Linked DNA regions of Homo sapiens: all the other regions are linked to region 3. The links come from fine-mapping of genetic effects on plasma protein levels. A gene starts in region 3. Each other region holds a variant in brackets. All regions are shown on one strand. Distances are between the middles of the regions.

What was found. A credible set is the group of variants that fine-mapping cannot tell apart. PIP is the posterior inclusion probability: the model's chance that the variant is causal. Protein levels are from antibody-based Olink assays in UK Biobank. Linkage for the fine-mapping came from a reference panel and not from the study's own genotypes, which makes the PIPs less certain.
Region 1: its variant is the best candidate, but not a certain one, in a credible set for the plasma level of the EPHA4 protein (UK Biobank, PIP 0.71).
Region 2: its variant is the best candidate, but not a certain one, in a credible set for the plasma level of the EPHA4 protein (UK Biobank, PIP 0.61).

What each region holds. Positions count from the first base shown.
Region 1 is chr2:221,485,926-221,493,925 of GRCh38, forward strand. All of the region lies in intron 4 of EPHA4 (EPH receptor A4), which reads right to left. Among named protein-coding and RNA genes, the nearest start is that of EPHA4, 82 kb to the right of the region's middle. The variant G/C (reference allele first, on the strand shown) is at 4,828.
Region 2 is chr2:221,521,842-221,529,841 of GRCh38, forward strand. The region is part of intron 3 of EPHA4 (EPH receptor A4); the gene reads right to left. Among named protein-coding and RNA genes, the nearest start is that of EPHA4, 46 kb to the right of the region's middle. RefSeq lists an enhancer at 5,275-5,775. The variant G/A (reference allele first, on the strand shown) is at 3,410.
Region 3 is chr2:221,567,453-221,577,766 of GRCh38, forward strand. It overlaps EPHA4 (EPH receptor A4), which reads right to left and starts at 4,852. Exons shown (of 18, transcript NM_004438.5): 1 at 4,706-4,852; 2 at 1,266-1,333. The coding sequence starts at 4,796. RefSeq lists silencers at 4,808-5,227, 5,828-6,107, 6,158-6,317 and an enhancer at 9,021-9,533.

The sequences.
Region 1 (8,000 bases), 83 kb before region 3:
TATTCTGAGTAATCTGAGCTCTCTTTTAATAAATACAAGGCATCCAGAAGTAAAAAACCTAACTCCGATTATTTTCTCTTTCATTTATGTAAGTATTGTGTCTGGCTATTTAGAAGCAATTAAATTTCTGACAGAGTGATTGCCTTTGTCATCAGAAATATGTCCACCTGCGAGTAAGTCTCCAATTACAAATATGAGGTTTATAACAAAAAAGGGCTAACTGTTGTACTTGTTCTAATTTTCTAGTCTCCACATCTGAATCGACCTACTGAGTACATACACCCATCGGGTAGCTTGAGGGTCATTGTGAATGGCAAGATTTTGTTTTCAAAACTACCCACTACTAGCCTCAATACAGGACTGGCATAACACCAGTCCTTATGCTTATGTCATTGTTTGACATTTCAGTTCCTTATTTCCTTTCCTGCTTTGTTTGTAACATATAATGGTGTCTTGCTACTTAGACACCATTCCATGTCTGTTTCTATCACCAGTATATGTGCTCCTCAAGAATTGATGTCTTGGCCGGGCACAGTGGCTCACGCCTATAATCCCAGCACTTTGGGAGGCCAAAGTGGATCACCTGAGGTCAGGAGTTTAAGACCAGCCTGGCCAATATGGTGAAACCCCCGTCTCTACTAAAAATACATAAAAAAAAATTAGCCAGGTGTGCTGGCACACGTCTGTAGTCCCAGCTACTTGGGAGGCTGAGGCAGGAGAATCTCTTGAACCTGGGAGGCGGAGGTTGCAGTGAGCTGAGATCGCGCCATTGCACTCCAGCCTGGGTAACAGAGTGAGACTCTGTCTCAAAATAATAATAATAATAATAATAATAATAATAATAATAATAATTGATGTCTTTATCACTTCCTGTTTTCTACCATGGTTCCTCGTTCAGAAATTTCAAAAAATGTTTGATAAGTCAATGAATGAATGAATTAAAAACTAATGAAGTCCTTTAATGCATCTTATACCCAGTGTTATGAAGTGTGTGAACTATGCAGCCTTCTCCGAGCCAAAGCTGTACTAGTCAACTTTTCACATACAGATTCATTAGCTTTATACCTGTGAAGTAGTAACTCAGTGTAACTAGTTTGTTTCAATTGCCTCTTTTTTTCATGGTTTAGAATTACTTTGGAAAAAGTAGAAAGGGCTATATATAAAATATTAGTGGTTACTTCTGCTGGGAGAGATTGTGAATCATTCATTTATTCAAAAAACATTTATGGTGTATCTAGTGTTTATCACCTGCTTTAGAGGAGAGAGGAAAAATATTCTTATTCATTTTGATAACTTCCTGATAGTTGCCTAGATAGTTGCAGGAATGGATAGGGAACCTAGGGAAAAAGGCAGAGACTCAAGGAAACTAAATAGGGATTATATGTGCAGTGGATGTCAGAGCAAGCACCTGCCTTGTCCTGTTTTTACAGCTGTGTAACCAGCGACGGCTGGGAATTTGAAATGTGGGTTCTATCAAATAAGGTTTTATCAAATTGGGATTGGTTATTACACTTTTCTTCCTCCACCTTGATTTCAGGAGGTGATTTACTCAGACATGAAAGCTTTATCTCTGGGGAAAACTTTATCTCTGAAGAAGCTTAATTTTAACATTTCTAAAGGTAGACAGGTATTTTCCATATTAGTCTTTATGGAACAACAGCTTTTGCCTTTAATTTTAATTTTTTCACCCAAATCAAGACATTCTAAAATATTAGATTGGTACAAAAGTAATGGTGGTTTTTGTCATTACTTTTAATGGCAACTACTTTTGTACCAACCTCATATAAATTAATCAAATGCTGAGGTGTATTTAAGGGAACATAAACACCCTTCCTTCACGTTTTTGGTTGTATTTGTAAATTTCCCATGAAATTCACATATAAGCCCAGGATTCTCTCTGTGCCTGCACCCAAAAATGAAAATAGCATGTTCAACTATTTTAAAGTTTTCATATTTAGTATGCCCTTTACATTTGTAATATAACTTAGTGGCCCAGATATTAATGGTAATCCCAGAAATAGAAGTCAAATGCAATAATCTTTAGTTTATAAATCTTTTGCACAGGGGCCGGCATAATTTCTCTGTAAAGAAATTTTATGATCTGGCCAGAAAATAAATATTTTAGGCTTTATGGGCCATCTGCTCCCTGCAGCAACTACTCAACTCTGTAATTCTATCTCCAAAGAAGCCATAGACAATACCTTAACAAATGATCATGGCTGTGCTCCAAGAAAACTTATTTGCAAAAATAGGTGGCCGTTAAAATTGACCTTCAGACCATTTCGTGCTATTGAAAATATGATGAAAGCAAGGCATCTTCTTTTTAGGAAGATGCTCTCTGGCACCCTCAGAATTCTGCATGTAATTCCAGGAACTAAAAAGCCTATCTAAAAAGCTCAGTCCAGGAACCCCTGATTAACCTATGTATATAGCCCAGGTGACAACTCTGGCTGCTAAAGTCCAAGTTAGACCTACCTTTATTGACTAAGGAGGGAATAAAATGAGACATATGGCTTATTTCTTGAGTTTCTCATTGCTCTGAAAGAAACGGGCACTGAATTTCTTGCCATTATAGATACATTTAATGAACATCCATTCACTTCACTGGTGTGAAATACTTTCTGCATCACACAGCAAGTACCAGAGAAAGGTGCTACAATGGGTAATTATTATTTTCTAGTGGGATGTCACCTCACATTCAGTTGACAGGAGTTTGACAGCATTAAGCCCCAAAGAAACTATAGCCACATGATAGTAGATACAAAGGGCTATCATATCATATTATAAAATATCACATCATATCATGTTGTATTATAAAAGGAATCTTGATCTTCCTTTACCAACCATGTGCTCTTCTCTGGGGAAAAAAACAAGCTTCTGGAAATGAACCACATACTGTCAATGTGACATTTAAGAACGGCAATATTCCAAGCATAAAAGAAAATTCCAGTAATTCCACATATCTTAATTCTTTCCTCCCATGGATTAGACTAAAATTTAATTCTTGAGTAGTTTAGAGAACACAGTTGCTGGCTTATGTCAAGATTTAAAGTAGCCCCTTTAGGACAAGCCAGTATTTACATATCCACATGAAATCTGTGTGAGCCTTAATAATGTCATTTAAAAGCCGTCAGCCAACACTAAACCTAAAGTCAGAAATGTCTCCAGTGTGTCTATAAGTTTGGTATAAACCATTCCATGGAAAGTCCAGGTACCCTATGTACTCTACCTCACACCCAAAGTCAGAGAAAATGCATTTCTTTATTCTTACAGGAAGCAACTGAAACTTCAGTAAAAGATGAAAACCTGCTATGATAATTGCGTTTTGAAATGGGTTTGGCAGAAATGGGTTCTGCCAAAGGGCTTAAATATATGTGGATATACGGTGTAACGTGCCATATAAACCTAAAAGTTCTATTTCTCGTAACGACTGGAATTAAAGTGCCAACAGAATGCAAAACTGTGGAAAAAAGTAAGTCAACTTTAAAACTCACATTGTTAGCAAAATTTTGCACATGCAACTCAAAATACCTTGGAGCTGGTAGTTCTGCTTGGAATTCTCACTCCCGGCCCTTTGACTGACTGACTTCTTATCCCTGGAATAGTTCTCATTCCTGACTACTCCATACAAACTGAAATCCTCCCTTTCCCTGTCCCAATGCACCCAATTGCATCACATTTTTAAAAATTTCCTTCTTAGGAGAACCTTCAATTATCTTATTCATTTGTTTGTTTATATTCCCATTAGAACATAAGCTCCAGGAGAAAAGGAATCTTCTCTTTTTCAGGTTTATGAGAATATCTACAGCCTTCAGAGTAATGCCTGACATCTGGTAGAAACTCAATAAATATCTGCTAAATGAACAAATGAATGAATGATGATGCTTTAGCCCAGTCCAGCTCACTAATCAGAAGCATCACTACCATAGCACTATGGCTGAGCACAGTGGCTCATGACTGTAATCCCAGAACTTTGGGAGGCCATGGTAGGTGGAAGGCTTGACAAGCCTAAGAGTTCAAGATCAGCCTGGGAAACATGGTGAAACCCTGTCCCTGCAAAAATTATAAAAATTAGCCAGGTGTAGTGGCATGTTCCTGTAGTCCCAGCTACTTGGGAAGCTGAGGTGGGAGGATTGCTTGAACCTGGCAGGTGGAGGTTGCAATAAGCTGGGATCATGCCACTGTACTCTAGCCTGAGTGATGAATTGAGACCCTGTCTCAAAAAAAAAAAAAAAAACCCACTGCCATAGCACTTTTGTATGTCACAAAAGCTAAGCAAAATAATAATAATAATAATAAAGAGAGAAAAAATGGCAATCACATGCTAAAATGTAAAAAAAAAAAAAGAAAAGAAAGAAAGAAAATCAAGTCTGCAACCAAGGCAAGAAGACAGTTGATAGAAAAACCAAAGTCTCTGGTCTCATGTGATAGAGTAGTTTCCAGAGCTATCACAGACATCTAATACTTAACTGATTTTTAATCGCCATTTTAAAATTCAATGCCTGGGCTATGAAATTCATTCTGGATGGGAAATGGAGCATCCCCCAAGAGCATGGGCAGAAAGGTAACTCTCCCATGATCGATGTATTTAAGCACTGCTGTCACCTCACTAAAATGCTAAGGCAACCAGTCCAACACATATCTTGGAGGAAGCAGCACCTTGGGTCTGTAGTTCCATTTCCTAAGGCTTCATTAATCATGTACAACTTTTGGACTGTCAATAGCACTTCAGCGTCTTAGCTGTAAAACCCTTCAACCCTTCAGATAAGCCTTTGTTGTTAATCTCTCTCCAGCTGAAAGACAGGTTATAAGGAAGAGTCAACAGTT[G/C]GGATGCATTACGTTTTGACTCTGAAATAAAGCCCATGCTTCCCCTGACATTTGTATATGTTGCCACCACTAATTGCTTTCTCCCAGTCCTATCTGCTGTGGGTTAGTTTACATAAAGATGGCTGTTTTAAAGACATCCCTCCTGACATATATGAACAGTGCATAACCTCTTATCATGGTGGTTTATGTGTTTTTACAACAAAGACAGCCAAGCAGGGCTGTCCATGATTAAACCAGAACCTTTTGGATGCATCAATCACTTGCTGCTGTCATGAAAAATTCTTGGCTTCCTATAGAGGTTCATTTCTTGTTGTGAGACTTTCCCATAACCTATTTTTCTGGTTCTATCTCCTTTCCCATTCTCCTCTCCAGTGATCTTTGTCTTTTTTTTACTGGGTTAATTAGGGGTTTGGTTTCTTTTTATTAGGATGACTTGTTTATGGCTGAAGTGCCTTATAAATTCTCAGTTATACACAAGAAAGCTACCACGCCAAAGACCAAGAAAAGTAGAATTGAGTATTTCATTTTTAAAATTATCTAGCCTGTGCATTAATTTACTTTCCTTGCAAAGCACTTTTTTGTATCTTATTTAACAGCTGCAATCAAATCTGACAGAAAAGTATTTATTGTTCACAACAATCTGATCGCCAAAAACTAAGATAAGTTAAGCAAATTGCCAAAATTAAGACAGCCAACATGCGCAAAGCTGTGATCAGAAACCCTGACTCCAAGGCTAAACAACCCTGCTTCCCTTTCATAGAGATACAAATAATATAAAGAAAATAATAACCCATAATTACAAATTCTTTTTGAGAATTGGATAGAAAGTTTCCAACTTTCTCAGTTCACCCCAGAGTTCAATTTCACCTCACTTCCCTGCCCTTCATGATGATGATGGCTAGCTAGTACTACTTCCCAGATGATCCTCTTTTATCATTTTCATGGGGATTATCTTTTCTGCCTTGTTCCTACCTTCTGTGCAAGAGAGTGGCTAGGAGTTTCTATTAAAGGTTCTTTTTCTAGGTGGAAGATCATAGGAATAGGGCGAGGGGCAATTATATCTCTATAGCAGAATCTCTCATAAATCTAAATGTTGATAGCAAAGAAGATACCCTGGGCTGAGTGTGGTGGCTCGTTTCTGTAATCCTAGCACCCTGGGAGGCTGAGGTGGGAGAACTGCTTGAGCTGGGAGGTGGAAGTTGCAGTGAGCTGAGATTGCACCACTGGGAGACAGAGTGAGACTCTGTCTTAAAAAAAGAAAAAAAGAAGATACCCCGTTCTCACCCCAGGGGATCTCAGAAAAATGTGTAATTAACCTTGTTTCATAGAAGCATGCTGTGAATAACCACTGTATGACTTCCATGCATAGTGTCAAAAATGGCATCCAGAAATGACAGGACTCGGTCAATGACAAGCCACTCTTAATTATTCAGGGTGGTAGAAAAATTGTAATAACCTGGCTAAATGGCATTGGCAGATTATTCAAGCCTTCCACTTGGGCATATATTAGTGTCCCTCGAATCTTTGCATTTTCCAGTGGAATCCATAATGGGCTGTTTATGACTATAAAATGGGGAGTATGTGGGGAAAAAAAAGAGGAAGCTAAAACAGCATTTTTTTAAAAAGAATTCAGTGAGATGATACCTGATCTTTATGAAATATCATGAGGCTCTTAAAATTTTGCAAACAACCAAATGGCAAATGATCAGTCTGGGGTCTATCTAGTGCCTTCGTTGAAGCTCACCTGGTGATCTTTCTCCCTTTATCTTTAATTTTCTTCAAACAAAAACCATCCACTTGGTTGTCTAGAGGTACTTTTTCCTTTTAGTAGCTAAAATGCTGAAAGGCAATCCGAAAGGAAGAAACAAAAATGTGGTATACTCACTAGCTAACATCAGATGTTGAACTACTAAGCTCTAACTGAAGCAGCAGCATACGTTGACGGCTGCATCTGAATCGTCCAAATGTCTTTGGTTGCTTTGATCAGTTTGTACAGTCCATGGGACAGACACATTAGCTGGCTTACCAACTAACAGGCAGCAGGACCATATGTTCTGAACTAAAAACCAACTATGTAATCTGGCAGTGGAGGAGTTGGTGTCTCAATCTGAGTTTTTGTCCTATGACAAATGGAATGCAGTATGAAACTATACTATTACATTGCAAATTTGATAAATGACATGGAATGAGAAATTCCCCTGGAAAACTTGGATTTGAGATTTTTCATAAAAATATGTTCACGAAAATGATTGATTGCATGAATGATAAAATGGCTAGAGATCAACCAATGAATCTTCTGAAACACTTTCATTTACGACACTTTGGGAATCTTTGGCCTTTGTTCTCACTTTTCTAACTAGTCTTTCACTAGAGCTAACTGCACCCTCACTGACCTATTTCACAGAATGTATGCCTCCCCCATCATTATATGATTAGTTACTTGCAGCTCTAAAGCAAAAAGAAATATGCTTTCGGGTAGATAAAAAAATATATAGTTTACTTGAAACTGAAGGCTGCATTTTATCCTATGGTTTATACATCAAAGCCTCGCTCTAGACATCCCTCCCCAAATCCCTTAGCCAGACTGCTAAGCATGTAAATCTTTGGGGTAGAGAATTGAACAGAATAACAGGGGCACCTTCAAGAGCTTGTTTGAAAATGGATGTGAGATTCCCAAAATTAAAGCCCTTAAAAAAATAAAAAATAAAAAAATAAAAAAGGAAAAGAGTCCCTCCCTTCTCCTGACCTTGGAAACAAGTAAGGACGATGTTATTTTAATTTGCATTCAAATTTTCACAACACAGTCACACAGCACCGGTCGAATCGACATTGGGTTTCCACCGAAGATTGCTCATCATTTCATTATGGCTCATTATGTTGATAACTGTCAGAAAGCATTAGCAGCGAGGGCTTTGAGTAATAGAACTGAAATGGTAATTTTAAAACAATACACTTTCTGGGAGGAAATACAGCAGCGCACTAAATTCAATTAGAAAAGGCAAATGTAGAGACAAAGTAAGTGATGTTTGTTGTTTGGAACTTGGCTGTTTCAATTTCTTGATAACGTAAACCTGGAGAAAGTTTTTTCAAATCAGGACCTCTGGTCATAGATCTTAGGAAATCTGCCCTCATTAGCTCTGAGCTCTCCTAGTATAAAATGTCTTGAAAGCTGC
Region 2 (8,000 bases), 47 kb before region 3:
TGGCACACGCCTGTAGTCCCAGCTACTCGGGAGGCTGAGGCATGAGAATCGCTTGAACCCAGGTGGCAGACGTTGCAGTGAGCCAAGATTGTGCCACTGCATTCCAGCCTGGGTGACAGAGCAAGACTCCATCTCAATAAATTAAAAACAAACAAACAAAAAAACAAATAAACAAAAAACCCAAAATAGGCCGGAAATACAGAGCAAAAGGGAACTAGCATTTACTGAGCACTGCCTGGGACTAGGCCAGGCACTTCAAATATGCATTCTCATTTAATTCTCACCATTTTCCCTTGATATAGACATTGCCAGTTATGCCCATACATGTGAGGCACCAGATAAATTTGAGGCCCAGTGTTACAGATAATGCTACATTCATCGTTGAAGAACGGGGAAGGTGCATGAAGAAACCCAAGAGAAAGCAGAATTTCCAGCCATCAGATAGGGTATCAAGGAAAATGAGGCTTGGAAAAAGAGTCTTGGATTGTCAATATCACACGTTTGAATTCTTTGAGAACTGCACAGGGAAGTGACAAAGACGAAGTTAAGCTGTAGGATTGGTCCAGTGCATAAAGGCACAATTAATCAAAACTTAGCTAAAAACACCTGTTCAATGACCAACCTATAAATGATATACGGTAACAGATTCTTGACACGACACCACTCATTATTACAGGGATTTGAACACTAAGTGAAACTGGTGTCTCTGAAACCGAACTGGCTTACCTAATAAATTCCCACTCTCACCCCAAAATGTGTTTCAAACAAGGTTTCCCACACTTCATTTACTTATGCTTCATTTTTATGAGTTTTACCTTCTGAGAGTTCAATTATGTTCTTGATATGTCAAAAGCAACTTGCCATAAATCAAAGGCAACAATAAAAATAAAATCCTATTATTATTATTATTATTATTATTATTATTATTATTATTTTTTTGAGACGGAGTCTCCCTCAGTTGCCCAGGCTGGAGTGCAGTGGTGCAATCTCGGCTCACTGCAACCCAACCTCTGCCTCCCAGGTTCAAGTGATTCTTTTGCCTCAGCCTCATGAGTAGCTGGGATTACAGGTGCGTGCCACCATCCACCTAATTTTTGACGGGGTTTCACCATGTTCGCCAGGCTGGTCTCGAATTGGTCTCGAATTCCTGACCTCAGGTGATCCGCCTGCGTCGGCCTCCCAAAGTGCTGGGATTACAGGTGTGAGCCACCACGCCCAGCCAAAAGATTTTTTTAAACTGTCTGTCCTTATGCAGCATTTGAAAACCCCAGTACTTCCAATATACCTTCCTCACTTACAAAAGAGAACACTGGCGATCAGTTGGGTAATAAGAATAGCAAGTAGTTACTGGGGCTCTCTATGTGCACTTTCATTAATTCCTTTGATACCCCCAACAACGCTAAGAAGTAGGGGCTATTTTTAATTGGCTAACTAATATATTTAGTCAATAATTTTTTTTTTTTGAGACGCAGTTTCCCTCTTGTTGCCCAGGCTGGAGTGCAATGGCACGATCTCGGCTCACCACAACCTCCGCCTCCCAAGTTCAAGCAATTCTCCTGCCTCAGCCTCCCGAGTAGCTGGGATTACAAGCATGTGCCACCACGCCCAGCTAATTTTGTATTTTTAGTAGAGATGGGGTTTCTCCATGTTGGTCAGGCTGGTCTTGAACTCCCAACCTCAGGTGATCTGCCCATGTCGGCCTCCCAAATTGTTGAGATTACAAGCATGAGCCACCGTGCCTGGCCAGAATATTTTTTAGTAACTTTTTTTGAGACAGAGCCTCCCTCTGTCACCCAGGCTGGAGTGCAGTGGTGTGATCCCGGCTCACTGCAACCTCCATCTCTGAGGTTCCAGAAATTCTCCTGCTTCAGCCTTCTGGGTAGCTGAGATTACAGACGTGTGCCACCATGCCTGGCTAATATTTTTTGCATTTTTAAGAGAGACAAGGTTTCATCATGTTGGTCAGGCTGGTCTCAAACTCCTGAACTCAAATGACAGCCTCCCAAAGTGCTGGGATTACAGGCATGAGCCACCGTGCCCGGCCCTCAGTAGAATATTTTTTGAGCACCTGGTATGTCCTAGGTGCTGGGATAAATTCAAACCCCTTTTGTTAAATTGATGGAAAAAGAGGGGAGTGGAAAGAAACAAACAAAGCAAAACAAATATATATATAAAATGCCTTGTGGTGAGAAACGTTCTGAAGGAGAGGAAAAAAATGACATATATTCCAATGGAGAAAACTGAGGCACCCAAATCATGCTGGACTTGCAGAGGGCAATGCAAAGTTCATGAAGTAGCGGAGCAGAAGTCAGATGCCAAGAGAAAACTCCAGAGCAAAGATGTCCAGCCACGTCCGTGTGCTGCCTCCTCTCCTGCCGGATGCTAACTCCACTTCTTAGCACCAGTATCCAACCCATCAGGTACTGCCTGAGCACCCTTTAATGCTAGGCTTCGGGGTAAAAGAAAGAACAAGTGAAACTTGAGAAAGCATAATCACCTATATACAGTCAAGAGGGAAAGTGGTAAATGACACGTCTCTATGGTTCCTCCAGTGTTTGCCTATCTTTTCAGGACTTTTTGCTGAAATGAGAATGAGAATGAGGATGTAGGCAGTGGTTGGTCCATGTTACATCTTAGTAGAAGTCATTAGAACCCACCTAGTTAGACTTACAATCAGTGTTACATGGGGATGAATGTCACCTGGGAAAAGCGGCTGTAATTTCCTAACAAAGCCTATGTCAAATGAAAAGGCAAATTGGGGAAGACAAGGAAGTACATTGTACTTAGTGACCTTTCAGAATTTACCAAATGCTTAATCATCTACATAAGGTGCAAATATGCTTTAACGGCTTGACTTAACCTGGGAAGATACAACATATAAAAACATCTCACGTCTCCATTTACATTACTAAACACCAGCTGGATTAGTTGCCACACAATTGATGCTTATTAGCACCCAAAAGCTTGATGTGATGGCTACGGCACGGCTACTGCTCATGAATTAAAATGGACATGCTCATACTTAAGGTATGTGTTTCCCAATTCAGAGATTTAAAATGAAGTTTTCCAAGTAACAATTATATTTTTATAACTCCTAAGTTCTCAAAAGTATCCTATTGTCTTATTTACCTGGAAGGAGTGCTGGAGAGAGAAAAAAAGAGGCAATTTTTATAAATCTATAAATATGTAATTTTATAGCCTTTTGAAAGAGTTTACTATTTGCAATGCTCACCAAATTACATGCCCATGATAGAAATTTCTATTTCATAAAAGAATGTGATAAAAATTGACGATGCAGACTAGACCAACCTGTCAGGGACCTCAGTGTTCACAATGGCCTCAGGACAGAGCAGCTGCAAATCATCTGTCCCCGGCAATGTGAGCACAGAGAGGACACCCATCACGCTGC[G/A]TGGAACTCCCCATTTAGGCAGATGAAAACAGGCGTGAGACTCAATGCACAACATGTAGATTAAGTTAAAAGGTTAATTTTCTGACTCGTGGTCTGGATAGTAGAGCTGTGGAGGAAAACGAGTTACCATATGCTCCGTAAATTTCCTTTCGGTTAAAAAAGATGAGGGAAAGAGAGAGAGATATGTCCTTGATTCCGTGCCATTAGTTCCGGCAGTGAGGATGCTCACTGTCACGCCTTTCCCAGGTTTGATCTGATGGAGGACGAACGACTCAGTGGTTAGACACAGGCTCGACAGTCAGACAAACACATTGAATGATGTTGCTGCCACTTGAGAGAGCAGGCGAGATGTGGCTCTTAACTCTCAGCTGTGGCTTCCTCAGCAAAATGGGGTTGATATTAAGTGAGGAATAATAATAAGAAACTGCCCACAAAGTACTTGGCACCAGCACTCAATACACCACTACCTGAGTCCTCTCCAGGAAACAAAGTTGGAGCCTATATCCCTTACAGGGAAGAACTGAGATTCTCTGAAAAAAAATAAAACGTTGCCAAGAAAAGAAGCTGGGAGGATAGGAAAGGGTCTACCAAGTACTTTTAGGGACTGTGTCTCCAGAGTGATAGAAATAATGTATAATTCTTTTATAACTCTCTATTAGATACTGTGTTTCCCATTTTATTTTCTAGATAAAAAAAATTGAGGTTTAGCAAAGGTCCAACTGGTTACATAGCCAAAGCAGGAGTCCAATTGAGGTTTATCACATTTCAAAAATAATTATAACTAATATTTATTGAAGAATTATGGCTCAGCACTTTATATACATAATCATACTAAATATATAAGACACTCTTATGAATAAGGAAACACATTATTCCCATTTTAAGCTAAGGAAACTGGGGCATATACAGTTAAGCAGTTGCTTGAGTAAATATGGCTAATAAGTGACAGTGTCAGGATTTGAAGCAAGGCAGTGTAATTCCGGCACTTTATATACATAATCATACTAAATATATAAGACACTTATGAATAAGGAAACACATTATCCCCATTTTAAGCTACGGAAACTGGGGCATATACAGTTAAGCAGTTGCTTGAGTAAATTTGGCTAATAAGTGACAGTGTCAGGATTTGAAGTAAGGCAGTGTAATTCCAGGTCACAGCCACAATACACGTGTGCCTCGAAGGTTGCAGGCAGGATACATGTGTCCCTCGAAGGTCATGAGCCTGATATACACGTCTCAAAGGTCTCCACCTTTCTCCTGTGTGCTCAGGAAACAACACAATCTAGTGTAAAAAAAAAAAAAAAAATTCATGGCTGGGTGCAGCGGTTCACGCCTGTAATCCCAGCACTTTGGGAGGCCGAGGTGGGCGGGTCTCTTGAGGTCAGGAGTTCCAGACCAGCCTAGCCAACTTGGTGAAACCCGCTCTCTACTAGAAATACAAAAATTAGCCAGGCGCAGTGGCGAGGGCCTATAATCCCAGCTACTCGGGAGGCTGAGGCAGGAGAATTGCTCGAACCCGGGAGGCAGAGGTTGCAGTGGGCCGAGATCGAGATCGCGCCATTGCATTCCAGCCTGGGCAATATAGCCAGACTCGGCCTCAAAAAAAAAAAAAAAAAAAAAAAAAAAAAAAAAAAAAAAAAAAATTGACACACAAACACGTTTAAAATGAGCAGTATTAAAATCTGAATCTACCCCCGTCTCTACTAAAAATACAAAAAAAAAATTAAGCCGGGCGTGGTGGTAGGCACCTGTAGTCCCAGCTACTCAGGAGGCTAAGGCAGGAGAATGGCGTGAACCCGGGCGGAGCTTGCAGTGAGCCGAGATCGCGCCACTGCACTCCATCCTGGGCAACAGAGTGAGACTCTGTCTAAAGGAAAAAAAAGAATCTGAATCTACTACTTTGTCCTTACAACAACATAGGAATAAACTAGAACGTTGTGGAAATTGGATAAATTCAACATGCTCCATGTTCTCTTGGTTTAGAGGATTCTTATTAATAACCCTGTTCGGCTCTTGAGGCCTCTTCAGAATGACAAGTGCCTCTGATTAATGTCCACGTGCACATATTCACCTGCCGAGTCTCTCATCAGAAAATATTAAGAAGAAGGGGAGAGAAAAAGAGAAATAGAAAACTAAAGAGGTAGCTGAAATAGATACAGTTCCTCAAAAGATGCCCTGGACAGACCTTCACAATCTCCAGATACAGGACAATGATTCAGCCCCATATGACAGAGGCTCCTGTGGTGAGGCCCACTGAGAGTCCACTCTCATTGTCACCTGGTCATTTACAGCTGAGTATGGAGGCCCCAGCCCCAGCAACCGGGGAGGTCCACCGGGGTCTGCCCGACACTGGGCAGTTACAGACAATGGGGCAAGAGCGTGTGTCTGTGCTTCCTCAGGGCCACCTTCTCAAATCCTTCTTAAGGATTCAACATAACATTGGCCTGGATCAGTTCTGAAGATATCAGCGGTTTATATTTATCTCACAATAGCCCGATGAGGTTCATTGTATTATTATTACCATTTTACAGAAGAGGAAATTGAGGAACAAAGAGATGAGGGAACTTATCTGTCACATGGCTAAGGAACTGTCGGAGCAGGGTGGAGTCCAAGGCAATCTGACTCCAGAGCTCACAAGCTGCCCTGCAAACCCCTCCTTTTAATATTTCGCCAATTTCTGAGGCTCATGAGCAGAGACAAAGACATTCTTTCACAAGTTAAAAGTGTTTATACATCTTTCCCAGGCCCCACCCCTACCTAACCACCCCCAACCCCGCCGTTTCCCCTCCCCTTCCTTCTCTGTGCACACAGCAGACAAACCTTATCTGTTGTTTAAAACATAGAGTTATGCCTGTCTCATTCTCTCTTGTGTAAATGCAGCAAGATTCCTGATACAAAGGCCTGTAATCCATAGTAAAAGTCTGATAAGCGTCTCTTAGGTGAAAGAGCAAACATATTAGCATTGTGGGAGAATGTACTCATTGAGTAAAAAATACACAGACTCAAGAAGACAGGGTGACCAGCATAAAATAGCAAATACTAGCCTTGCTACGCTGCCTCCCTAGTAATAATCCAGGCTCGGTAACCATTTAAACAGGAAGTGTATATTAACCATTAGATGCATCAGCAACAGCAATAACAACAAAATTCGAGCAGCCAATTCAACGTTTTCTCTGCTCATGGACATAAGACTATAAATCCCAGCCACCAACTGCTCACCTTAATCTTATTCCCTTTGAATCACCACAGCCAAGTCTGAACAACTTTTTCATTATAATATTATTATCTGAGTCTTGCAGTGCTTGTTTAGAAAGCATTTTCCTAAACAGTACCTCATTTAATTAACTGAATCATCAATACAACTGGTAAGGTAGGAGTTCTCCTTTTTCCCAGATTAGGAAACTGAGTTTCAGGGAGATTACCCAGCCAGCAGGAGCAGAAACTGGCTTTTCTGATTCTAGGTCCTGTGCTGCTTCCCTGACACCATTTCCCCATCCTCTGATGCCACTTCTATACATTTTTTAGCCTTGGCTTCTGGGTTCCATGCCCTCCTGTGCCATCACCAAATAGGCTACATTCCAGATTTCAAATAAATAAATGGCCCACACAACTAAAGGCATGCTCTTATCCTCTGTCCGACATACTCTCTAACACAACCAGATAAAGATCAAAGTGGCATTTACAGGTCTCAAATACATCAAATGCATGGATCATTAAAACAAAACAAAACAACAACAACAACAACAAAAAACTACGTATATGCCAAAAAAAGTTTTAAAGAAAAATTTTAAAAACCACTCCAAGAGTACATACAATATAGTAATAGATGTTTTCCATGAGTAAGAGGATTGTGCATGGTTTCCTTTACTGCAATAGTCTATTCTTTCTAAATTTTCTATAATTTACATACATGACACTGTTGCTTGACATCAGAAAAAAAAAGATTTCAGAAATGTTCAGTAGTGAAAGCACTGAAAAATTCCAGGTCTCCACAGGAAGGAAGGAAAGGGACTTTGCTGCAGGGGGCTGATTTTGCCCCACCTTGAGGAAGGCTGGAGAGGCTGGGAGAAGGGGCGGTCACCATTCACAAAGCACAGGAGGGAAACTGAGTAGACAGCTTCCTCTCTCCACCAGGAATTGTGACTTCTGGGAAACAGCCACCCCTCCCTGCAGGCTGCCAACTCTCTCCACACCTAAACACGCTGACTTGTACCAATGGAAACGCCTAGCTTTTAAAACAAGGTTACAAATCTGTTGCATCCAGGCAGAGAGGGAGTTGATTATTCTACAGACAGAGCTAATTATTTTGACCTAATGCTTTGAGATCCTCCAGTATCAAATCTGTGACTCCAAATAAATGGAGAGGTCATTATCACATGTTATCTTTACGCCTGGACTTAAAAACAAAATTTGAGACAACGCTGAAGGGCATAAGCTTGCTCACTGTAGTAGCTTTAGTACAACACTTTCTGCAAAGTTGCTGACAATGGAGTATGAAGCACCAGTCTCCAACACCGAGGGTTTCTAGGTGTGACACCATGGAACTTTTAGACACAAAGCAAACAACTTTTGTTTTTCCCCTACATTT
Region 3 (10,314 bases):
TGTCTACACTGCCAGAGGCCTGCCAATCACTCCTCCCTCCTTTAAAAAGATGGTTTTAAGGGCAGACTGGAATTTTTCAGGAGAGAACAAACCAATGGCAGTCAAGTTCAGGCAGAAAAAATAGGAAGACAGGGCAATCTGTTTTATTTCAGGTGGATTACAAAATCTGTTTGCAACAAGACAGCCTAAAATTCTCCATTTTCATGATTATTTTCTTGCTTAGTCTTAGTTCTGAAATATGTCCTTGATAGCAGACTCTATGAATCTTTAATTTAAAATCCTTCATTCTTTATTCAATGGACCGGTGTGGAGCCCACGCCAGGTTCTAGCATTACAATTTTTGCCTAGTAAAAACTCCTAATCTTTCACCCCCATTGTTTTTAATCAATGGACTCAGCCATAAACTATCAAGCCTGTGAAGGTAGGATGATTTGTTTAATTTTAAAAGGATTTGAGAGTTATTTCAGTTTGGCAGAAGTCAGTTACATGTTGTACTGTTTTCTTTCCAAAGCTGATTCATTCTGACTGGTTATTTAGGGGGAGTAGGAGAATGTGGCCGTTGACCTAGTAAGATGGAGGCAGTAATGACAAGTATTACAAATTTGAGAATAAATGAAGTGATGCTTTTTTCAGACCTTATAATCCAGACTACTCAATCCCCAAAGATTCTTCAAGATTACAGACACATAAACTTTTCATATTTAGCACCATTAATACACAGGCTTAGGGTTTTTTGGACACAAGTTCACATGACTGTCTCTCAGTGTGCAAAAGAACAGCAGCTGATTTAAGAGTGAGAGCAAGGTACAGAGCCTTCCTGCAGTTCATGCAGGTACAATTAGAAATGTCTTCTCTCTCATATCTTTATTTATTCTTTTTTTTTCATCTGGAAGCAGGACAATTGCTCTTAAATTAACCTTGTCAGGACTTCATGGCCATCACAGTAATAGGCATAAATTCTAATTTGGTCCCCGGATCATATTTCCTGTTGGTATTTTAGTTTTAAATAGGCATCTAAGTCTGTGCCTCCACCAGTCTCCTAATTTTGAAACCCCTTTCTGCCCTTTTGGTTTCTAGTTCTTCCATGACAGAGTTATCCAAAGGGAGTATAGGATTTCTCCAACAAAGCGTAATTCACTTCATAGGCCACAGCGGAAATCTGACCCCCTCACCACAATCAACAAGAATCAAGCCATTAGGACTCTCAGAAAGTTGCTAATCACTCCTTTTTTACCCTTTGGATCAGAGAGCAACTCAGGACTTACCCCTCCTTCCAGAGGGCTTGCTATCCACCCAAGTTCTCCCTGAACAGATCTGGAATCCAATAAGGTAACTGCAAAAAACAAAAGAAAAATAGATGAATTTCCAATTGCAAAAAGCCAATAACACAAAAACCATTTGCCTGAGCGTTTCCATATGTGCTGAGGCTGTGCATATCCAACACTGATCAAAACCTAAACTTGGGCTCACTTATGTAAATAATCATTACTCATTTGATCTTCTCCCCCTCTTTAAATCTGCAGGTTCTTATTTATTCAACTTGCTTAACATTTAAAATTCCATCCTAGGACTCACTTGATTCATTTTTCTAAAAAGGATGAATAGAGAATCTGAAGTACAATTCAAAAAGATAAATACATCTATGTAGAGCAGTTACACTCCAGAGCAAAATCTGCATTCATCTCTGTCTGGTATCTACTAGAATTATTTGTTTTTGCAAGTTTCAGATGACCACATAACTCATCAGGGTGACAGAGCCACAAGTGAATTCTCTCTTCTATCAGAGAGTATCCTATCCAAAGGGTCAGGAAAAGGCTCTCCCTAACATTTTCCCTTCCACAACCAAGTAAATAGTCCCTGAATATGGTATCCGCTGCTTTTTTAAATATCAAAGTTTCAGAAAGAGGGAATGCCAGACGTGCAGAATCAGAATGCAAACGTACCGAAAGTATTCTCTCTTTCTCAAGATGTGTTGGGGGACAATCAGAGACTCGTCTTCCACCCGTAGGAAATCACTGGCTTGAATTTTAGGTATGGAGTGCTGCCTAACGGCTTTAGTGTGCTTGTGCTACACCTGAGTGCGTCAAAGCTTGGGGGGAAGGGAGGACAGCCCACCGAGCTGCGGTACCCCGCTCAGGCTAGAAGAGCGCTAGGTAAGGGGAACATCCAAAGGGACGCAATGAATTCAAAACCTCTCTTTCCCACCGAGATCTGCAGTCCTGGGGGTCGAAAGGCCCACCTCAAAGGAACCACTGGGTTATTAATTTGATCAGCCAGGCTGGCTCTTCAGGCTGGGGGAGGGGTGGGAATGGGAAGCCGCCATCCGTGCTCATGCGCACCCCAACACTCAAGCTTACCCCCAGACCCCTGGATTCTGCCCACTTTCCCTCTCATTTCACCTCAAAGTCAATGGAGTTAAAAATCAGTCTCTTTCCCCTACTTTTCCCGGGGAGTCTGAATTCCTGGGGTCTGTTAATGATTTTAAAATGTAGAGCCTTCCCTGGGTCGCTCCCGCCTGGAGTTCCCGCCCCCTTCCCTCCTCTCCTCTCCCCACCGCCAACCCCCACCGCAACCATTCTCTTCTCTCTGTCCCTAGAGAAAAGCCCGCTACATCCATTTGGATTTATGTAAGGTGGATTAGGGACACAAAGGAAACAATAAGACCCAATTTACAAAAAAAGGAGGGAGTAGAAAGGGAGGGTAAAAGAGAGAAAAGGAAACGTGATGGGAATAGAAAGCAACAAAGTGAATTAATTTTTAAGGGGGAGGTGGGGGAGGGGAGGGGAACAGACCTCCCTCCCTCCCCTTCAACATTAGCCTAGGGCTCTCAGAGCCTTTTTGTCTTGGGCTCCCAAGTTTTTCTCCCCCCCCCCCAAAAAAAGAGGGGGTTTAAAAAAAAGAAAGAAAACAGTCTCTACATCTGGGGCGAGAGAGGTCTCAGGGGACGTCCTAACAAGTGTGTGAAGTGGCCAGGAGAACGCGGGATCCACGATTCCTCTCAGGGGAATGAATAACCCTAGGGACCGAGGGGCGGCGACGGCCGAGATGGCACCAGAACCACCAGAAGCCACGTCGGAAGGAGATGGGAGATCCAGAGGGCGAGAGAGGGCCCCTTTCCTCCCAAGCGATGTCTGTGGGCAGGTGTATAAATCTCTCAGAGCCTCCGTCTGGAGGGCTCCGGGTACCGGCTGCCCAGCCAAGGCTAAGTTGGTTTTTGGCTCCCTCCTTCGGAACAGAGAAAACGATAGATTACACAGGGATGGATGGACGGATGTCTGGAGAGATGGAAAGATGAATGGATGGATGGATGGGTGGATGGATGGATAGATGAATGGGTGGATGGATGGAGGGATGGATGGACGGACGGACGGACAGATATATGGATGGATGCATTATGGATGGATGCATGGACGGACGGACGGATGCACGGAGAGATGGATGGATGCATGGATGGATAGATAGACGGATGGACGGACGGATAGATAGATGGATGCCGGAAAGGAGAAGAATGAGAGACGGATGTGAGACTAGATGCACGCAGGCCAGAGCACCAGCATACGCTGGAACAGAGCACGAGCATACACTCGAACACACGCGCACACACTCAGGACATCTGCGCACAGACATACAATCCTCCGCGTCCGCTTCCACGCAGGCATTCGCGCACCTACATACACGCAGTTGCACGCGCGCGCACACACACAGGCACACACACGCAGACATGCACACACACGCAGACATGCACACACACCACACATGCAGACATGCACACACACGCAGACATGCACACACACACCACACATACACACACACACACACACAGTTCGCCTCTCCCTGGGTTTCTCAGAAACTAAATGATCACCGCCCCCCCGCCCCGCCCCACCTCCCGACACAGACACACAGGCACATACAATCCTCCCAGCACGTCCGAACGGATGCACAGAAAACTGAGCACCCAGACGGGTCCCGTCGACCCCGCACGTTAGCTCTAAACTGTGTGCAATTCTGGGGCGAAAAGCTAAAACTCGACTGCGTTCAACTTGCCGGCGGGTTCCCCAAGTCTGCGGGGCGAAGAGCTCGGGCCCCTCAGGCCCGCAATCGCACCCTCGGGGCGCTGGGCTTGGCGAGGAGAAAGGTGTCTGACTCCGGGTGCTAGAAATCAGGTCACTGGCGCCTGACGAGCGGCGCCACGACCGCTGCGCTGCGGAGCAGGCCCCGCAGCCCGGTCCCGAGAAGCGCAGGGCTCGGGAAACTTTGCAGAAACCAGAGCTCGAAAGGCTTTCGCTAGAATCCGGGAGCACCAAGCCTTCACTGTGCTCCAGGCTGCGTTTTCCCCTCGCCCCGGGCTGGCTCAGGAGAGGACGTGGTTCTTGTAATTTTTTTTTTAAATCCCGGCGTTGTCTCCCGTGCATCCCCTCAGGGCGCCTCGAGCGGGCCTCTCTGGCGGATGCTGATAAACTTTGGCCTTTGGTTACAAACTTGGACAGACCCGCCGCGTGCACGGGTCACCGCCTCGGGGCAGGCTGTCCGGCGGTTCCCCGCTGCCCCTTCGCCGATCCCCTCGCCTCAGCCCCCTTCTCCCGAATCGGGACGCACCATTCACACTGGGCTCCCCCCGCACCACCTGGCCCTGCGCTCCTGAGGACCCCTCACCCGCGATGGCCCCTCGCTGTCCCCGACCACAGAAAGGCCGTCCCGCTCTTACCTTCATTCGCGGGGTATACCCTGGAACCTGTGACAGCGTCGCAAATCCCGAAGAGACACGAAAATAGGGCGAAATAGAAAATCCCAGCCATGGTTCGCCGGTGCCAACGCTGCTCCTGCCGCTTCTATCCCAGTGGAATAAATGCTTAAGTTAGGAGAGCAGCGGGCTGAAGACATTGCCAAGGGGGCGGGCCCGGCCGGTGACGTGAGCCCGCCAGTCCGGGGCCCGCGGCCAATGGCGGCGCAGACAGGGCGGCCGAGCCCCGCCTTCACCGAGCAGGGCCCGCCCCAGGGTTCCGCCCCCTCCGGGCTCCACGGGGCGCGCGGTCTCCCGGGGCTCTAGGGGGCGAGCACGGCCGGTCCCCGCCCCCGCCTGCCGGAGGGAGCCAGCGGGATCCCCCACGTTACCTCGAAGGTCGAGCCCCTGGACGGCGGAGGGACTTTGGAAAAGCTCGGAATTGACCGAGGGGAGCCAGAGAAGAGGTTGGAAACCTTTTCTCCCACCACGGGCGGTTTAAGATGGAGGAAAACGCTCTTTTATTGAAATAAAAGAAGTCTAAGCTGACCTGCGGTTGCTTCTTTAGGAGAGTCGACGTGTCTGCGTCCAGCGCGCCCGGGCTGAGCTGCAGACTCGCGCCTGCCACCGCCACCCTCTGCCACCTTGCCCTGTTTTGTCTTTATGGCGCTTCCCCCTCTGAAATACTCTTTGCGGGGAGTTTTGTGGCTCTATCACTCGCTTCTTCCCTGGCTCCCCAGATGCCTGGAGAGCGGGGACCTACTTGGTCCCCAACGTCCAGTCCGCAGCAGGGCTCCGTCACTGTCTCCAGAGACTGAACGAATGACTTTCTAGCAGTAAGGAAGTCCCCGCTGGCCCCGTCCCCCTGCACACGCCGTGGACCTCGCCCAGGGCCCAGGACGCCCCGAGATGGCCTTGGGCAGGGAACCAGTTGTGGATTTCCCGGGGGCAGGGTTGGGGGCAGTCCCTGGAACCGGGCCTAGCCCGTCTGGGAGCGGTGGGGTAGAAGTGAAAGGCTTAAGTGTGGGTGCGGGGACTTGCAGCCGCACAGACAAGGCAGACCGGGACTGGGAAGCTGCCCGGAGCGGCTGCTGCGACTCTCCGCTCCGACCTAGCCGGGGCAGCCCTCCCTGCCCCGGGAGAAGACGGCGAGCAGGAGGACCCGCAGAGCCCCGCCCGGCTGCTCCGGCCCCGGGGGCACTGGCACCATCGGGCTGTGGTCTTTTCCCGATGCCCGAGCCGTGGACGCGGCCACCTAAGAGCGGTCCGGCGAAGGCAGCGCAGCCGGTGTCCCAGGGACCGGTCCCCAACGCCACTCGGTGCATTTCCCCAGGCGCTGGCAGGGGCACTGATTCCTAGCAATGAGGCCTCCCTTCCCCTTCCCAGGCCGCCCCTCCTCTGACTCCCTCCAGAGCAGGGCCGAGTTTTCCTGGGGAGCCTGGGTCCCGGCGGCCGGGCGGCCGCTGGGAGGTGGAGGAGCCTCTCCAGCCCCGGCCGCAGCTCATCGTGAGCCAACCGCGCCACCTGCCGGCCAGATGCGGGAGTGTGCGGCCCCGGAGGAAGGGCGAGCGGACAAAGACCGCAACCCGCAATCCGCAACCCCGCAGAGAGGTGGTGCGTGCGTTTGGGCGAGCTTTTCAGCCACCGCCAAGTCTCGTGCACTAGGGCTACTCCTACCGTGGGGCTGCGGACAGCGCTCAAGAGGTCCTGGAGTCTGTCGTGACTCTCGCCTGCTGGATTTCAAAAGATGGAATCGGAAAGCGTTTCAAGGAGAAACTCCTAACAAACCTTCCGGGGGTTGCCTGAGTGGCTGCTCTCGGAAAAGCGGATCCTAAATAAAGCGGGAGGGTTATAGGGCGACGTCGAGGAGAGGACAGGTCTCGAGTCACTGCTACAGTTTCAGGTCACTGGGCTCCGCAGCAGATCGTGTTTTCTCCCGTGGCTCGAGAGCTGCGCTGGTTTCTCATGCAAACTCAGAGCCGAGCTAATGACATGAGCAACTTTTACTTTTACACAAGATGAGCACGCGTGCCGAGGCGCTGGGCGGCGGCTGTGTGAGTTGGTGGCCCAGACGAACAGCTTGTGCGAGACTCTGGGCATTTCGGTTTCTAGATACAAGATTTGCTTAAATGTCACAGTCCAAAGAAGTGGATTTCAGTCATTGTAGCTACTGATTGCACACAAGTAAAAAGGGAAAAAATATGTACTCGGGGGATATATGTATGTGTGTGTGCGTGCATAAATTATTTAAAATAACTGCACTAAATCCCTTTAAGAAATGCATTTCTGGGTTCTTTCATGTGTCTTTCTGAGTTTTACAGAAAAAGAAGACGAATATTGGTCCCTGTCATTTGGCACACAGATTCAAAAGAGAAAAGAGCAATCCGAATTCTTTTTGAAACCTTTTTAAACAATAGATGCTGGCTGCCTCTCTGCAGGATCTTGAGTGTTGCATGTATCTATCTGTGTTTGAAACGGGAAACTGACTGCCTGCATTGTTATAAACAGTAAAATTTCTAAAACATGTACCATTTTTTTCCCCAGGATATGCACATTGAATATTAAACAAAGTCTTTCCAGACACAGCTGCCTGAAAGCAAGGCATCATTTGCTAGAGTACATTCACTGACTTTCCCTTTTTTCTTCCTATGTTTTAGTTCAGGACCCAAGGCAGCCCGATAATCAGGAGAACCAAGAAGCAGGAAATGCTAACTTGGAAAAACTGAACTATAACTTCCTCTTTAAATCATTTCTGGGTTGCAGAACAGAAATGAGCTGCTGAAAATTCCTCTGTCCATTGTGACTACCTAGAACAAAGGTGTTCTAACCTAGCAGATATGATTCCTTGAAGAGTAAGGCAAAATTTTAAAAATGATGGTGGACAAAGGCCACCATCAATGCAGAAAACCACCCACATTATGGGAAGACAACCTGGAGTTTTCAAATGTTGGAGACTGTTTACAACACATCAACGGAGTCATAAGGATACAATGGAATATCATACCTTTAAAAAAGTACCTAAAATCACCTAATTTTAAAATAAAATTGCTTTACTCTTGAGTAAGACAAGTCTTACTACAGTAAAAATTTGGGGTTATTTTGAATACACTAAGAAACATGTCAAAACATATCTGCTTACACACTTAATGAAAATAGTAATTGAATAATCTGAAAACAATGATATACTTTTTTTTATACAGTGCCTACCACAAACGTTTGAGCTACGAAGTACCTTGTAAATGCTGAATTGAATTAAGATTGAATTCCAAAGGTGTTTTTAATCCGTAAAAGACGTTTGTAAATAGCACCAAGCATCCCGGGGTTTCCACCTGTATGTGGAGGGCCAATTTCACCAAAGTAAAGAGAAAGGAGCCTTTGACCCGTAGACAAATAATGATAAGGAGGGTGTATGAAAGACTGGAGAGACAGAGAGAATAAGAAGATGAATCCACTCTGCTTTTTCTAGGCATCCTGGTGGATTTTTTGTGAAAAAAATGGAACCTGCCCATAGTGCTCCAATGACTCCCTGAGTTCTCTTTTAGAGAACCAGAACTTTCAATTCAGACAACCCCAATTTGATACTTTAGCTGGGCTTTTTCTAGCTGTGTGTCTTTAAGTTCCTTGACCTCTCTGAGATATGGTTTTCTCATCTACAAATTGTAGATAGTTAACATTATATGGTTCTTCTAAATACTGAATGAATGTTATAGAGCTTCTGGTATAGTACCTGGCGTGTGTTAGCCAGCTGTTATTACTCATTTTTATTTTTATTTTTATTTTATGAGACAGGGTCTCACTCAGGTCACCCAGGCTGGATTGCAGTGGTGTGATCATGGCTCACCACAGCCTCACCCTCCCCAGGCTCACGTGATACTCTCACCTCAGCCTCCTGGATACCTAGAACTACAGATGTGTGCCACCACACCTGGCTAATTTTTTGTATTTTTAGTAAAGATGGGGTTTCACCATGTTGCCCAGGCTGGTCTCAAAATCCTGGGCTCAAGCAATCCTCCTGCCTCATCCTCCTAAAATGCTGGGATTATAGTCATGAGCCACCATGCCTGGCTATTGTTTCTGTAAAATAATATTTAATTAATAAGCATTCACATTTTGAAATGAGAAATCATTTGTTCAGCTTGAATTGTTCCTTCCAGAAGGAAACCAAGCACTGTGATTTACCTTTCGTGCTCCATGAGAAAATAAGATGCTTTATTTTATTAACTCCTAGAGTAGGGAAGGGAAATAAATTCTAAATTCTTCTCTTCTTTTATTGTTGATTTATGACAGCTGACATCCAACTTTTATATTCCTAGGTAATTCCACTGGATTTGGACCTAGAGGCTATGCTTGTCTTCAAATAGAATAGTGTAAAAAATACGTGAAAGAAGGTGTGAGGAATCCAGAGTCCCACAACCAAGTGGTAATGAATAACCAAAGCTCTACCTAATGAAATTCCCACCGTTGTTAGAAAACGCTTCTACCACAAGCTACTGCATCTTAAATATACAAATTTGACACAACAATTGGTGGGCTTCCGGAAGCCCCCAGGAAACCTAACTGCAGAGTTCATCCTTTGATGTCAAGGCTTTGATGCTGTTTGTTATGCAAATAAGAAGCAGGACACTTATGAGCCCTTTACACCTGAGTGGGAAAAAAAATGGCTGCAGAGCTCAGGTCTTCATGCATCAAGAGGATGAGAGAGCAAGACAAAGCAAGAGGCCTTTTTTTGTTTGTTTGTTTCATTTTTTTAATAAGTTGTTGGGGTATAGGTGGTATTTAGCTACATGAGTAAGTTCTTCAGTGGAGATTTGTGAGATCGTGGTGCCCCCATCACCCGAGCAGTATACATTGCACCGTATTTGTTGTCTTTTATCCTTTGCCCCCTCCCATCTTCCCCCCAAGTCCCCAAAGTCCACTGTATTATTCTTATGCCTTTGCATCCTCATAGCTTAGTTCCCACATATCAGTGAGAACTTAGGATGTTTGGTGTTCCATTCCTGAGTTACTTCACTTAGAATAATAATCTCTTTTGCATCACTGAGGTGAGGAGGGGCAGACAGGAAGGTTGCAGTTCTCAAGGGAGCAAGGCTTTTCTAAAACTTCATTTGATGCCGTCCGTGAATTTTACTCGGTTCTAACAAACATTTCTTCAGTGTCTACAATGTACCAAATCCCACATGAGGAAGAGGTCAGGAGATCAAGACCATCCTGGCCAACATGGTGAGACCCCGTCTCTACTAAAAATACAAAAATTAGCTGGGCAAGGTGGCGGGCGCCTGTAATCCCAGCTACTTGGGAGGCTGAGGCAGGAGAATCGCTTGAACTCGGGAGGCGGAGATTGCAGTGAGCCAAGATCGAGCCACCGCCCTCCAACCTAGCGACAGAGTGAGACTCCGTCTCAAAAAAAAACAATAAATAAAGAGATTTCTTCCTAGTCATGACCATATGTGATATCCACCGCACAGGGTTGTGGGGGCCAGAAACCATCAGGGACCTTTCCACCACCAGGGGCCCAAGAAGGAGGAGGAGAGACAGAGAAGGCATGTGCCAAGATGCTCAGTTCAGTTCTGTAATAACTCTAGATCCCTCTCAGG